Regions from separate parts of the Homo sapiens genome. Here region 2 is linked to region 1. Evidence: fine-mapped expression QTL. Tissue or cell type: prefrontal cortex. Region 1 holds a variant in brackets; the other region holds the start of a gene. All regions are shown on one strand. Distances are between the middles of the regions.

Region 1 (8,111 bases):
TTATAGAACATTTCTTTACCATCATGAGACATGTTATCAGTATGTCAACTTATTGTACTATTTGAGAATGGAACTTTTCAATTTCTTATGCTGCATCTTGTTCTAGCCTTTAACTCACTACAATTTTGAATAATGCATTATTATGTTCTCACCAAATGTGTGACTTTTCCTTTTCTGAGCAATAAGTTCTCTTATTAAATAAATTGCTGAGACTTTTCATAGAATGTGACTTTTTTAAAAAAGTAAAAGTTTCATTATGTTTTGAGGTTGAACTTGCCACATAAAGTAATCAGCATCTCTGGTCGTCAAATGGTAGTAATTTTTAAGTGTCTTTTCATTTTTGGTGGAACTACCGTTACATTTAGAAATTGGTGAATGCCAATGATACACAATGGAATAGGAAAACTTGGATTCCTAGTCCATGTAAAACCTATTGATAAAGAGCATTATTGTAAAGACAGACTTTATGTCCTTTGTTGCACTTGTGTAATGAAATGACTCTGAAGATTATAATTATTCATTACTAACATATTAGAATTTTAAATAAGTGTTGGCCTAAAATACCTCTCATCCTTCTCACACCTCTTCTTCAAAAGTCACCATACTAGATCATCAGGCATTTTTATAAAACATAAACTCTAATAAAATACGTAACAAAAGGGTATGATAACTAAGTGTGTAAATCACAAAAAAATGCCAAAATTTTCACAATGCAATTTACTTCTAGCCTACATAATTTATGTTTTCAACATTTATAACAACAGTGGAGTGGCCAGGGGGCAAGTAAATCTTATCAAATAAAATTCCTTCTTTAGAAGGAAAACTTCCTATTTGCTATTTCACTGACAGAGCTTGTTCACTAACGTAAGTCAGTGTGTGGCATGAAATAGAAGATTAGAGAAGGTAATTCAAAACTAGCAACATCTTGCAGAAACCTAGGTTCCATAGAACTCTATTTAAGAAACTTTGCTCTAGGGATGATAATATGCATCCCTAATATAGTCTGCTACGAGTTAATATGATACCACTTCATGTAAACTTACAGCAGTTTATCCTATTTACCCCCTTTCACCCCTTGTGCTATTGCTATCATACATTTTATATCTACTTATTTATTAATGCCAAAATACTATGTTATGATTTGTGCAATAACAGTTATACTTAAGAAATTAAGAGGAAAAAAAATTGGTGTAGTAGGCAGAATAATGCCCTCCCCGTGCAATAAGAAGTCCAGGTCCTAATCTCTAGAATTTCTCAATATGTTAGGTCCTATGGTAAAGGGAAATTAAGGTAGCAGATAGAATTACACTTGCTAATCAACTGCTGTTAGGATAGGGAGGACATTCTGAATTACCCAGAAGGTCTCAGTGTAATCATAAGGATCCTTAAAATGAAAAGAAGGATGCAGTAGAGGACCAATGCAAATGGTAACGTGAAAAGGGCTTGACTTCAAAGCCATTGGTGGCTTTGAAGATAGAGAAATGGGACTATGAGCAAGAATGCAGGTGGCCTCTAAAAGTTGGAGAAAGCAAGGACATTTGTTTTGCCCTAAAGCCTCCAGAAGTAACACTGCTCTGCTAACCCCTTAATTTTAGCCTAAGACAGACTCATTTCAGAATTCTGACCTCGAGTCATAAGATGAATTTGTCTTGTTTTAAGCCACTAACTTTGTAGTAATTTGTTACAGCAGCAACAAGAAACTAATATAGATGGTCTTTTGTGTTTACCTTTTGCTCCTGTAGATCCAAATTGTCATACCATGTCATTTGCCTTCGACATCTTTTTGTATTCCTTTTTGTATCCCTTTTTGTATTCGGCCTTTTAAACTTGTCATACCATTGTCTTCTGATCTCCATTGTTTTTGATGAGAATTCAGTTATAATTAATTGTTTTCCTATATGTAATTTTTTCCTTTCATTGTTTTAAGACCATCTCTTTATATTTGGTAGTACATATTGCGGTTTTCTTTGTCTTTTGGATGCTAGGCATTCACTGAGATTTTTGGATTTTTAGTTGATATTTTCACCAAATTTGAGAAAATTTCAGTCATTACCTTTTTCAAATTTTCCTTCTTCTCCATTACATTATTTCTCTCCTCTCCATAGATTTCAACTGCATGCACATTAGAATACTTAATATTGTCCAAATGCTCACTAAGGCTTTGTTCGTTTTTTCTTCATCCTGTTCTTTTCTGTTCTTCAGATTAGACATTTTCTGTTGACTTCTCTTCACATTCACTGACCCTTTTGCCACCTTCACTCTGGTGGTAGACCCATGCAGAGATTTTTTTAAATTTCGGATATTACACTTTTCAGTTCTAGAATTTCATTTTAGTTCTTTTTTTAATCTCTCCTGAGATTCCTTCACCTGTTCACTCACTATGGCTACATTTTCCTTTAAGTCCTTGAAAATATTTATAACTGCTTTAAAATTCTTGCTAATGTAGGTCATGTCAGGATTTATTTGTGTTGACTACTCTTTCTCTTGATCTTGAGTCACATTTTCCTGTTTCATTACATGTTTAATTTTTTTATACTAGACATTGTGGATAAAACATTATCTTCCTCTGAAGAATGCTGATTTTCATTCTAGCAGGCAGCCAAGTTTTTGGCTAATGACTTTGAACTTGTGTAAGCTTGGTTTTTATAATTTTAAGATGTATCTATTTCAATTTTATCCTTAGTTTTAGAATAAATCCTTAGTCCTAGGAAAGAGTCTTTACTCAAAGGTGTGGCTCCTCTCAAGTTTCTATTGAAAGCTTGAGGTGTTTACTAAGCCCCTTTTTGACTTTGTAGCCTTCAAACTCCAAAATCTATCTATCTTATGGTGAGCAACAACTGAAATCTCTGCTCAGCATTTTTGTTTGTTTGTTTTTGAGACAGAGTCTCACTCTTTTCGCCCAGGCTAGAGGGCAATGGCGTGATCTCAGCTCAATGCAACCTCTGCCTCCTGGGTTCAAGCGATTCTCTTGCCTCAGCCTCCTGAGTAGGTGGGATTACAGGCATGTGCCACCACACCCATCTAATTTTTTGTATTTGTAGTAGAGACAGGGTTGCACCATGTTGGCCAGGCTGATCTTGAACTTCTGACCTCAGGTGATCCACCCACCTCAGCCTCCCAAAGTGCTGGGATTACAAACGTGAGCCACTGCACCTGGCCTCTGCTGAGCACTTTTAACCTGTTACTTTACAACGGACTTTTTTTGAGACCATGCATGTGCAATTCAGAGATCATCCAAGGATTTGATGGAAAATTAATACACAGGTTTGGAAATCCCGTCTTCACGGCTCTCATTTTCAGAACTTTCCTCCTCAATTGCCAGCTGTTCTGGCAACCCCAAACTCTGTCCTTTCATACTTAAAGCCAATCAGACTTCAGCTTGAGTTCTAACTTCCACAGCATTAATTGGAAAATGCCCTCGGGGATTAATCTGTTTAAACATGGATTTTACTAAGTGGTGTTCCCTTCCTTTCCAGGTGTATTAGTCCATTTTCTGTTGCTATAACAGAATACCTGAGACTAGGCAATTTATAAAGAAAAGAGGTTGATTTAACTCATCATTCTAGAGGCTGGGAAATTCAAGATCAGGCAGCTGCATCTGGCTGTGACCTCATGCTGTGTCATAAAATGGCAGAGGGCATCACATAGCGAGAGGGCAGGAGCGTGCCAGCCCAGGTCTCCCTTCCTCTTCCCCCATCACAGGGGCCCCATCCTGATGACTTTATCTAATCCTAATTAGCTCCCAAAACCCTCACCTTCAAATACTATCAACATATAAATTAGCGGATTAAGTTTACAAAGCATGAAATCTGGGGGACACATTCCAACCACAGTACCAGGGTGGAGTCTTTTTTACTTTGTGATTACTTTTGGTAACTTTCCAGTGTTTTGGTTTTTTAAAAAATTTTGTCCAGGGTCCAAAATTGTTATCTGTGGAAAACAGTCCAATATAAGCTATTGTGCCATTACTGAAAACAAAACCTCTGTATTACTTTATTACTTTTATAATTTAAAAACTAGCTTTACAAAGGGCTAAAACAGATGGACTAAAAATCAATCTTTTATATTAATGATTAGCTTTATAGGTAATTTTTTGTCTTTATATTCCTAATTTTCTGTAATGTAATTGGTTTTGGGTTTTTTTTTTTTTTTTTTTTTTTGGAGACAGGGTCCCTCTCTGTCACCTAGGCTGGAATGGAATGGTGTGATCTCGGCTCACTGCACCTCCACATCCCAGGCTCAAATGATGCTCCTGCCTCAGCCTCCCAAGTAGCTGAGACTACAGGCATGCACGACCATGCCTGGCTAACTTTAGCGTTTTTTGTAGAGATGGGGTTTCACCATGTTGCCCAGGCCGGCCTTGAACTCCTGGACTCAAGCAGTCCACCTACCTCAGCTTCCCAAAGTGTTGAGATTACAAGCGTTAGCCACCACAGCCAGCGATTCTTTTTTCATTAAACTTTTCTCAGTGAATGAAATCTGCGTTGAAAATTAACTTATACACTTTCTACTCTGTGGGCTGCAGTGAAGGCAGCCCAGAGAGTAGAAAGTGTGTAAGTTAAAGTAAAAGGTGTGTTTGT[G/A]TGTGAAGAACATGAGTCATCTTCGGGTTATCTGTTGGGTGAGGGAGGATGGTTTTGCAGGGGTGGAGAAGTTTAAAGAAGCAAGGAAACTGGCCAGGCACAGTGGCTCACACCTGTAATCCCAGCACTTTGGGAGGCCGAGGCAGGTGGATCACAAGGTCAGGAGTTCAAGACCAGCCTGACCAAGATGGTGAAACCTTGTCTCTACTAAAAATAAAAATAAAAAATAGCCGGGTGTGGTGGCAGTAGCCTGTAACCCCAGCTCCTCTGGAGGCTGAGGCAGACAGTTGCTTGAACCCAGGGGGCAGAGTTTGCAGTGAGCCGAGATCACACCACTGCACTCCAGCCTGGGCAACAGAGTGAGACTCCATTTCCCCCCCCCAAAAAAAAAAAAAAGAAATAAAAGAAGAAGCAAGGAAACTCTACCATATACAAAGGCAATTAGCCACAACTCATTGCCAAATGCCTGGGTTATAAACCTACCAGATTACCTTACATAGTAGAAGAATCTGCCATAGATGACCTTTAATGTTTCATTTTAAATTTCCAGCTTAATATTAAATAAAAATGAATATACTATACATATACAACTAATATGTATGCATTAGAGCAAATCAGAAAGGGATATGGAAAAAGGAAAACAACTGATTTGTAGAATGATGACATTTGAGGATGATTTTTAAGGCAGAAGATCTCAAATACTTTTTCCCCCTTGGAAACACATACTGGATGACTATCACATTCCATTGTTTTCTACTAAATGGTGGCCTCTGGCATAGATAAGACAAACTGGAGATTATGGGAGATTCCCCTTCTAACTGCAGTATGTTACTCACCACCCTTCTTTTTCTCTACACACTCAGGGAAGTATATTAGAACTCAGGTAAGTAAGAAAAACATTCTTATCAGAAAACCCTGATTCTGCTCTAACTTATTAAAGTAAATAATTAGAAAACTTTATTCATTCATTTACAGATACTTTTACTGAATGCCTACTATGTGCAATACACTGTTTCTATTTCAACCATTATTGCAAATTACTTATTACACAGTTTCTGACTGGTTTAGGTAAGCCACCCATATAAGACAACAGAGAGACTGAGAGAATCTGTGTTTTAAATAATTTAGATTGTTGTAAAGCTGTTTGTAAAAATAAAAAACTTTAATAGCCTAGTAAACAGGTGTCAGTCAACACTCAATTCTTTAAAAGTCTTAAATTCAGACTAATTTCTCAATTGTGAGGATAAACAGAATGGCAAGTAGGAAAGTAAAGCAAAGCAAAGACCCAAAACTCTTGTCTTGCCTTTGTTCTCCGTATTCATTCATTGTCCAATTCCTTTTTTTCCTATTTTGCAAATGTATTCCATGTGCATCCCTTTCTCTTCGTAAGGGCATATCTTCCTGCCCAGTTTATCCTACATATCTTTATCATCTAACGTGTTTTCTTTATAACCTCCATGAAGGCAGGGATGTGTTTTATTCACTGCTGTATTGGCACAGTGTAGTACCTGGCATATAATGGGTAATCAATAAGTATTTGTTATGGAGTCAGTTATTCACCGACATTTTACTTTCACTCTCTCCTAATCCTCCTCAAGATAAAGTCTAAATTCTTCAGGCTTATTTTCAAGGGCCGCCTTTTGTAACCTTGCTATCAAACTTTATTATTCCCTCCATTCCCATGTTAACACTCTAAGCAGTCCTAGCCCATCCTATTCTCCAAAATACTGATTCGATTCTCCTGATTAGAAGGCTTCTTACCTTTGTTTATCTAGCCGCATTCCAGATACCTTTTCCATATTCTGCCTGCATGTTATCTGCTTCTTGTGGACATGTAGGCACCTTCAGCCCACACTGTCCTCTCTTTTCTCTTCTACAGGACTCACAATCTGTTGCACTCAGTACTATAACCAGTGATCTTTTTCTTACAGGTACTTGCATTCATATTTACTTATTTTTATTTTTTTGAGATGGGGTTTCACTCTGTCACCCAGGCTGGAGTGCAGAGGTGTGTGATCTTGGCTCACTGCAACCTCTGCCTCCTGGGCTCAAGTGATTCCCCTGCCTCACCCTCCTGAGTAGCTGGGACTACAAGTGTACCACCACACCCGGCTAATTTTTATATTTTTTTGTAGAGATGGAGTTTTGTGAGACTGGTCTTGGACTCCTAGACTTAAGCAGTCCTTCTACCTCAGCCTCCCGAAGTGCTGGGATTACAGGCGTGAGCCACTGTGCCTGGCCCATATTTATTTATTTATTATTTGTACAAATTTATGGGGTACATGTGAAATTTTGTCACATGTATGTAATACATAGTGATCAAGTCAGGGTATTTAGGGGTGTTTGTCACCCGAGTTCAATACATTTTTGTTGATTATAGTCACTTTACTCTGCTATCAAACATTAAATTTATTCCTTCTATCTTACCATGTTTGTACCCTTTAACACACGTCCCTTCATCCTCCTCCCCAACCCTTCTCATCCTTCCCAGTCTCTGTTATCTCTCTTTCTACTTTCTACCTCCATCTCATCCAATTTTTTAGCGGCTACATATAAATGAGAACATGCAATATTTGTCTTTTTTTTACCTGGCTTATTTCACTTAAGAAAATGATCTTCAGTTCCATCTGTGTTGCTTGCATTCTTATGTAACTGTTTCACATGTCCATGTCTTATCTCCCCACCTGGATTGTAAGCATCTGGAAGACTGAGAACTTCAGCTTTCCGCCATATACAACTTCTCTGATTTCCTCACACTTCCTTTTGCACATTCTGTTTCCTTGTTCCGAGATACTCTTCATCTTTCCTCTTCTGTTTGGCCAACTCATCTCTCAGGCCTGAGTTTGAACAAACTTTCCTCTAATAAACTTTCATCTACTAGAGTACCTACTCTTTTCCCTTAAGTAATATGCTCATCATTCTTCATTCTAACTCTCCCTGTTGAACTACAAGCTCTGTGACAGTATATCTGTCTTATTCATTGCTATATTCCCAGCACCTAGACTAGCACCTGACAATAAGATGTACCCAACAAATGTTTGTTGACTGAAAGAATATCTACTTATTTCTTTTGTTTCTACTTCATGCATAATAGTATACCATCTACATGCTAAGTACTTAATATAGTCCCATTGAATCAAGCAAAAGATGATAAGGATTCATGAAGTGTTTATTTGTAAGCTGGGAAATGAGTAAACATGTGTGACTGGAAGACAGTGTCCTTCAGAATAATTGGACATTGTATTCAAAGCCCACCAACTAGCCCCTTGCTCTCTCCTTTCCTTTTCCAAATAATTTATTGCGACCTACTATGTACTAGGCACTGGAGATAACAGTGGTAAGCTAAGTGAAATCCCTATGCTTGATGACTTAACATATAGCCTAGTGAAGGAGATAGAATATTGACAAATCAATAAAGGATGCAATATTGGGCAGTGATAAGTGCTATTAAAAAATCAAAGTAAGCCAGGCATGGTGGCTCACTCCTGTAATCCCAGCACTTTAGGAGGCTGAGTCAGGTGGATCACCTGA
Region 2 (8,111 bases), 960 kb before region 1:
AGGCTAAATTATAAATTAAATGAGTTCACCTAATCAGTTACATTATTTTGTGTTGCATAATAAATTTGAATTTTAAAAATAGAAGTGTGCATATATACAATTTGGGGAAAATCCCTATTGATTCTCAGGGAGAAAATGATGGGCATCTAATAAGCATAATTAATGGGCATAGACACTACCCAGACATATTCACACATGTTTTGGTTGGATAATTTGAAATGCTTTACCACTTATTTTTTTAAGTTACTGCTCTAATTTGGAGTTCGGTAGCTAGCCACTCTTGAGAGAGAGCTTTTAGAAAACAAACGCCAAGGAGAGCCAAATTTTTCCCCAGACCATAAAATGTTGCTTATTAATTTCCCAAGGCAAGCTGGGCTCAGTGGTATGGGCCTGTAGTCCCAGCTACCTGAAAGGCTGAGGCTGGAGGATCACTTGAATCCAGGAGTTCAAGCCTGGGCAACAGGGACACATCACCCCTTAAAAAGAAAAAAAAAAGGAGGAAAGAAAGAAATTAACAATGTGCCAAGGCATCTGTTTCACAGAGCATGATGGTTAAGAACACAGGCTTGAATCCACTGATAATTGCCTGGCTCTGAATCCTGGCTCTATGCAGTACTTAACCAAGTGCAGGAAACTCTGTTCCAAGGATCTTCGCAGTACCTCTCTCATCTGTTGTAGGATTATGAGTTAATATTTAAATACTAAGAATGGCTCATTTATGTTGCTTTTGTTCTCATTGTTGTCAATATTTTCCCCAGCCAGAGCAAGGAAAGGCTGAAGAAACTATGGCTTTTGATGGAAGAAAAGGGTCTTTGAATTGACTAATGAAGAAGAGAGCTGGCATCTAGTGTTTATTTTGTGCCATTTTGGCTAAGCACTTCACATGTGTTATCTCAGTGAATCTTCACAACCTCAGGAGGAAACAGGACTAAGAATGAGCAGTGACTAGCCCTAGACAGTGGCAGCCTGGATTCCATCTAGGTAGCCAACCCCACACAGGCTCAGCTAAATCTCCCACCTACCTCTCCCAAACCTTTAAAAGAGATTGTATGTCAATGTCAGCTTCCACTATGAACCTTTCTGCCTTTTAAATTTGTTTCAGAAGAAATCTGAATTTCCCATATACTCAGAAAACGCAGTGACTACTATCGCCAGGAAGAGGCTTTCCTTTCTGAGAGGAAAAAGGGGCAAGATACAGCTCTGTACCTCCAGGGGGCACTGTCTGTGGTGCTATCTGGAACTTAGGTGCGCAACAAGAAAGTACAGCCTTTGGAGGGTTAGGAAGGAAAGGGTGGGCTGGGAAATACTGAATCCGATTTGATTTTCACGTCTGCTAACTGAAGACTAGCTGTTGGGGAGGAGGAGGAAAGGTAGAAGTTCAGGGGTGGGGGAAGGGAGTGAAGGTGCCACTTACAGAATCTAAGAGAGGAGTCGCAATTCAAAAGAAATGGCTTCCTCCTCTCATCTGCCTCACTTCCCACTGTGTTTCTTGGTGGTCGTTTCTTCCTGAGGTTACAGGATAAACAAACCTGGCACACGTTGTAAAATCCGCATGGTGAGGAGCTCCTGGGGCTTCTAGCCTCTTTGGGGCTTTGCTGTTTGGCTCGGCTAAGAGGTTGCATGTGTGTTGTTGTTGTCTTTTGCCCTCAACCATTGAAACCTTCCCTCACTTGAAGCCGCCCTCCCTTCAAAGCAGCCCACCCCACCTCCAGAGACAGATTGCCCATTTCTTTTATCTTTCGTATATGGAAAACAAACCCAAGCCAAACGAGGCCTTGAGGATATTCCAGTCTGCTAGGGACCAGTCTAGTTCAAGAAAACTGGGGAGGGGGCCCGAGATCCGGCCCTGAGGATGCCGGATGCAGCCCCGGGAACTCCAGATCCACACTTCAGGACAAGAGCGGCCTGGGAAGGCTAAGAGGGAAGGCCGTTTGTGGGTAAATCCGCTGAAGATCTTTTTGGGAAATGAGCACAGTTTTGGTGTGGTAATTTCTTGCAACCATATTTTCCTAGATTGAAAATTCCATTGTTAACTTTGGGTAAGTAAATCTCACCCAGATCTCCAGGTATAGGAGTGTAAAACCAGACGGAAAAAGATGCTGATAAAAGGAAAAATGACATTTTTCTTCTGGGCACTATTCACTTCCAATGACAAGTGTGAGGTCTACGAGAGAGAGAACAGTATCCAGTTTAATTCAGACTAAGGAAAGCCAAATTTCCTTTCAATTGGCATGTAAGGAAACACCCAAATAAATGGGCTTGTGTGGTGTCTAAATTAAAATATGGCTCCTCTTTATTTTTGTACACATGCCTCCAAACATATTTTTCCAGTTCCATCAAATTAGGACCAACTTTGTTCATATAGAAACTTCTTTTTAATATTACAATACCAGGATCCTCGCACATTTTATATACATCATTCCACATTTAAAATATATTTCAGGTTTACGTAAAAAAAGAAAGTGTTAAACTATTTACAAAAATACATTAAATACCCCTAACATTAAATGCAACTTTCCCACTTTAGACAGGAATGAACTTCTTTTGAACATGGCACAAAAGGATCACCGTAATAAAAGTTAATATAGTATAAAACCAACCAAACAAAAACAAAATGAGGCTAGACCTAAGCCACTCGCAGTTCCAAAAAAATAAAAGCCCAAAGCCGAAAGGCGTTTTCATTTGAGCATGCACAACAGATTTCGCAATTTTCGCAACGTTTCTTTGTGAATGTGTCTCCTTCCCTTTCAGCAACTTTTCGGTCTGGGTTCCTAAATGTTAATGTAATGTGACCTAATCTAAAGGATTAGGCCAGGAAGGGTCGGTGGGATCTTCCTGCTGCGTGGAGAAGGTCTCAAGCGCAGGCTCAGTTACTTCTCCACCACTTCCTCCACGCAGGGGAGTTTGCGTTCCTCCGAGGAAATACTGTCCACGATGGAAGAAAGGCATCGAAGGCTACTCGAGGCTGACGAATCAATACTTGCTCCTCCTGAGCGAAAAAACAACACACAAACATAGCACCCAAAGAAGGAACACGAAGCAGCTCCGCGCCCCGCGCGAGGCCGCTTTGGCAGCGAGGAAAGGCCTGGTCCCGGCGCGCAAAGAGCGCCCTTTTCGCAGGGCGCGTCCCTGCTCTCGCTTCGAGCCCTCTCGGCCCAAGCATCCTATCCACCTCCCGGATTTTCTCTGGTGCGGCCCAGAGCCCTTTTACTTTACCTTCCTTAGCCGTTATCACGAGCCCCCTGGAATGATCGGAAACACTTGGCCACTGGGAGCTGCAGGTGCGCAGGAAATCCGCACCCTCAAGCTGGAGGGAAAACCAAGGCAGCGGCAGATTAGGAAAGAAACATCGGTTCCGGGGTTGGGGTGGGGTGGGGGGCGGCTTTCCTGCTTCCTCGGGCCGGGTACGCATTTCCTGCCTATTGCAAGCACCCGGTCTTCTTGGGTCACTGGGGGTTCATTAGAGACGGAGCGGGAGGGGCGGGCGAGAAAGGGGGAAGGGAAAAAAGACCAAGCAGCTGGAGGTTAAGGCCCCGCGGAAGGCGTTTAATCAGCCTTCGCATTTCCCTGCCCCGGCAGCATCTAGGCTTACATTTTCTTGTTTGGGTCTGTAGCTGAAGGGGTCCACCCCCAGCTCCTGCATCTTCTCCTGCTGATCCAGCCGGTGCAGCAGGTCCTGCAGCCGCTCAATATAGCTGATGGCGCTCCGCAGAATCTCCACCTTGGGCAGCCTCTGGTTGGGGTTGGCCACAGTTCGCCGCTTCAGTGCCTCGAAGGCCTCGTTGATTTTCTTTAGCCTCCTCCTTTCGCGCAGGGTGGCGGCTTTTCGCCGGTCAGTGGGGGCAGATTTTCTCTTGCAGGTCTTGCAAGCCCAGATCAGACACTGGCCGGGGCAGTGTGGAGGCTGCAGGCCCGGGGGCGCCAGGACATGTTCCTCTCCGCTGCTGTCGCTCCCCGCTTCCGGGGGCATTTGGTCCTGGCAGGGGGACAAGGTACCATCACTCCCTGGATACAAAGGAGAGCCTTCTGCCACTTCTAATGGCTGCAGAGTAACATTTTCCCCATCCAAGTAGAAGAAATAGGAGCCAGTTTCAAAAAGGTCCATCATCATGTTCTCCTCCTTGGCCTCTGACTCGATCTGAACTGGGTGATGGACTCAAAAACCCAGAGGAACCACCCAGATGGCATTTAATTAGTGCAGTGACATAAGTCGACCCAGCTTTATATATAGTAGCTCCTGAAACTCAATCCAACTTTTAGCTGTCATGGAGCATCAGTCTCCCAATGTGATTGCAGCTAGTGCTCTCTAGAACATCTAGTTTGAAAGAAAACTGAGAAGTGTCACCTCCCAGAGTGTTGTGACAATCTATGTGCAGACCAGGTTACACAGAGAGAATCACATAACTTAAACAAAGCATTGAACCCTTCCATTTTGGGCAGTTTAGATACTAACCTGCTTACAGGACAACTTCAAAACAACTGGGGATTAACATTGCCCTATTCCCCTCCCCCTGCGCTCATCTGAATTCTAAGTATAGACCCATGATGAAAGATTTCAAAGGCAATAGCCATTGCTCCAAAATAGCCGGGTTAATATTTGCAGAGTGGTTCAGCTCCTTTCTCTCTCCTGCCTCTCAAAAAGATGCTATTCCTGTGATTAAAACCATTACAGTGCTTCAAAGGTTATACATGACTTTCAGGCTTCAACCTCAATAGAAGCAGGTAAATCTCTTTCCTCTCTTTTACTAAGGCTGCAAGATGATTTGGGAAATGGAGGGGGTTGCTGAAGGGTGCTCACATCCCATGATACTGGATGAAATGATTCTCTGGGTCCTTCCATAGAGACCGTCCTTGACTATCTTTTTTTTTTTTTTTTCCTTTGGGGAGAGGGGCAACCAGGATCTGAATTCTGTACCCTTCCATTTGTGGAGCAGTATTACATATGAGGTAGGGAGTGGGATAGAGGATGGGGTTACAATACATGTAGTAACTCCTCCTTAAAAATAGTTTTAGTGAAAACAAGACTCACACCACAGCTACTTGATATTTCAGCATTTACTTGTGGCCCCCTCCAAGGTGCCTCTCTTATGATTCCAGTTCTGCACACTGTGTGCTCACCACTTTTTCTTTTGCATTCTCACTATCCATTGACTCCAAATAAGTTGTTTGATAGGATTTAAGTGAGAAAGGTTAGCAACCAAGGCACGAGCAAGGAAACAGCATTTTTTAAATTGCAGCTTGCCCATGGTCCACAAGATACATGTATTGTTCTTCGGGAGACAGTACAATATGAAGGTCAAGTGCGGGGGCCCTAGATTCCAAAGAACTATCAAGTCCTAGCAAGGTTAATTTCTATGTATATATCCATGGGTAAGTACTAGATCTTGATGTCTTCAAGATGATAGTGGTTTCCTTACAGTTTTAGTGAGGATTCAATCAAATGATACCATGCATGTGAAACACATAGCACATAGCTGCTTGATGAACAGTAGTTATCATTTGTAGTATAAAGCCATGTTAGGGCAAAGACTCATTCCTATGAATGAAATAAAGCATAGCTGTTGGAGAGGTTTTTCTTTTTCTTCCCTCTCTCTGTTTTGTTGTTCTTTCCCTTCCTTTCACCTTTCCTCCTAGAGCTCTAGAAAGACTTCCTAGCTGTAACTGGCCTTTGGGATGTCAGTTGACCTTGGTTTTGGTCTTTATAGTCAGTGCCTCAAAAACTATGTGGGAACATAAAATCTTATTGCTCTACCCCAAGCAGTAATGATTATAAGCTGTGTTCTTTATGACTTTATTTTAAAAAATGAATAGAGTGAAGATAATGCAGGAAATCAACTGTCAGATAATTTAGAAATTAGCTAATCAAGTCGCCTATTCTAGAAGATGATTCTTCACAGTTTCTATTGAGCCACAGACTGGATGTTAAGCTTTGATATTTTTGGCTGTTTTTATTCCTTATCAAGTTTAATACTATTCTTAGATTTTTGGAATGGTAAGAAGGAGAGAGAAGAGTTGCAAGAGGCCAATACTTCTTCTGTGACTTTTTTTTTTCTATTTTCGCCAGTTTCTTGGTTGCTCAAGTCAGCAATTAAAACTGCAGATTGAAAGTTTCAGCAACTCAGGGTATAATCTAACATCTATTATAGAAAATTAGCTTGTGCTCTTAACCACACTTTATGTTGTCTCTTGTAAATGTGAAGACAATTTGAAAAGTTAACTAAGATTATTGTGATAAAAATCATTAAGAACATTAAGATAAAAATGACTAATTTTTTTTATTCAGCATTTATTGGGTACCTACTAAGTGCCAGATAGTGTCCTAGGTGCTAAGGATAAAGCATTAAAAAAAATCTCTCTTCTCATGGAGTCTGAATCTAAAGAGGTGAGTTAAATTAACAGACCAAATGGGAGAAATAGCCTTGGAATTGGGATGGGGAAGGCCTAGATTATAGTCTTTTGGGGCCTGTGAGGATTTAATGAACTCTACTATCTCAAATTCTCAGATGTTTAATCCGTAACATTGGCATAATGACAAAAGATGTCCATATTTACAGGATGTTATAAAAATTAAACTTTTAAAAACATGAAACCCACCTCAAAAATGTAGCATCCTCTCTAAAAGTACTTTTATTATTGGAATTAGTATGTTCAGAGAAAAATAAGGGAGAAAAATATCACTACTAAGCAATTTTGAAGCCTGGGTGAAGAAATACATTTAAGGTGTTACCATTCTTAGACTTGCCACTGATTTTAAGAGGTATCAGATAGATGTTAGAGAGCCTTCATATCATGAACCCGCTAAAAAATATGGAAGTTCGCCTTTTCCTTTTTCTGTTTCTTTCATTCAAGTGTCACCACTGGAGAAAGAGCCAGTTTAGAAATGTAGAAAGAGAATTATTTTTTTAAAAAAGTATATAAAGCTTTGGGGTGCAGATCAGGAGCAACTTCTTAGGCAAGGGTGGCTTTTACTGGTATAAAGTCAACTTTCACCTATTGAATTCTTCCTTATTAAATTATGAATCCCCTTTTCCAACACGCTCTAGACCTCAGACCAGTAAAATTAGTGGGAGTGTTTACCCTGGTTTAAACAGATTTTTCCCCTTTTTTGTGGTTGTTTTGGGAGTTGAGGGCAGGAGGTGGGAGGAGAAAACAAGGAAATGCCAGCTTGGGAAATAATCACCCTTTATTAGATTAGGTCAATGGGAAAATACGCACTGATGCCAAACTTCTAACTAGTGAACTCTTGGAACTCAAACTGTTTACAAAATATGAGATGCCTGTAATTGCAATTATATCACTTCTCAGTAGAACTTGGAGACACAGACCTTGACAAGTGGTCAAATCAGTTTTACATAAACTGCAATCCTCCAAGCTTTAAATAGTCCAAATATTTTTTTAATTATGGAAAAAGTAAATGATAATAGGGGAATAATAATATTATCATTAATAAAATCACTCCAAGGGGACTAGACTTCATTCATCATAAAATCTGAAACTAGATTAGTGACAGGATGGGAAGTTTTCATGTGGTTTACCACCCTGTTGTTCTTACTTCATGCTTATTCATTTGCAAATGATTTTTTCCCCCCAAAAAAGCCTGAGTGCCTCCCAATTCTTTTCTGTGGGAAGAAGTGGGAAGGAAAGTATTATGGCTAGCTCACATCAGTGGATTTTAGCTATGAGCCTTTGGAAATGTTGCATATATGGTAGAAAGAGAAGAGACCTTTGGGGAAAGACAGAATCTGTGTTCTAGCCATTCTTAAGTATGTGTTTCTAGCCACAGTTTTATTAGAGATCAAAAAGCATATACATTACACATATCATAGGCTTTCTTTTCACACTAAATTAAATAATATATTTTGAGCCCATGGTATGAAATATGCACTCAGCAAATATTAATTCTCCTACTCAATTTGTAAGGCCTCTGATGGAAAGAATCATAGTGAATTCACTGAAAAACCTAGATTTGGTGAGAAAGATGTTTCTGAAAAATTTGGGGATTTGTGTTAATCAAGGTGAAAATATTGAAACTAGTCGCTCTAGTAGCAGAGCTTAATGTATTTATACCCTCATTAAATTTCCAGTTTACTGGGGAACAAGATACTAATTAA

The links. PIP is the estimated chance that this variant, and not a neighbour inherited with it, causes the effect.
Region 2: MYF6 starts here. The variant in region 1 is fine-mapped to the expression of MYF6 in prefrontal cortex (GTEx, PIP above 0.99).

What each region holds. Positions count from the first base shown.
Region 1 is chr12:79,744,736-79,752,846 of GRCh38, reverse strand. All of the region lies in intron 4 of PPP1R12A-AS2 (PPP1R12A antisense RNA 2), which reads right to left. Among named protein-coding and RNA genes, the nearest start is that of PAWR, 58 kb to the right of the region's middle. The variant G/A (reference allele first, on the strand shown) is at 4,581.
Region 2 is chr12:80,703,720-80,711,830 of GRCh38, reverse strand. It overlaps MYF6 (myogenic factor 6), which reads right to left and starts at 4,197. Exons shown (of 3, transcript NM_002469.3): 1 at 3,593-4,197; 2 at 3,217-3,307; 3 at 2,357-2,989. The coding sequence starts at 4,111. The coding sequence ends at 2,871. LOC105369867 (a long non-coding RNA gene) reads left to right here and starts at 4,593. Exons shown (of 5, transcript XR_007063388.1): 1 at 4,593-4,722. RefSeq lists an enhancer at 3,488-4,397.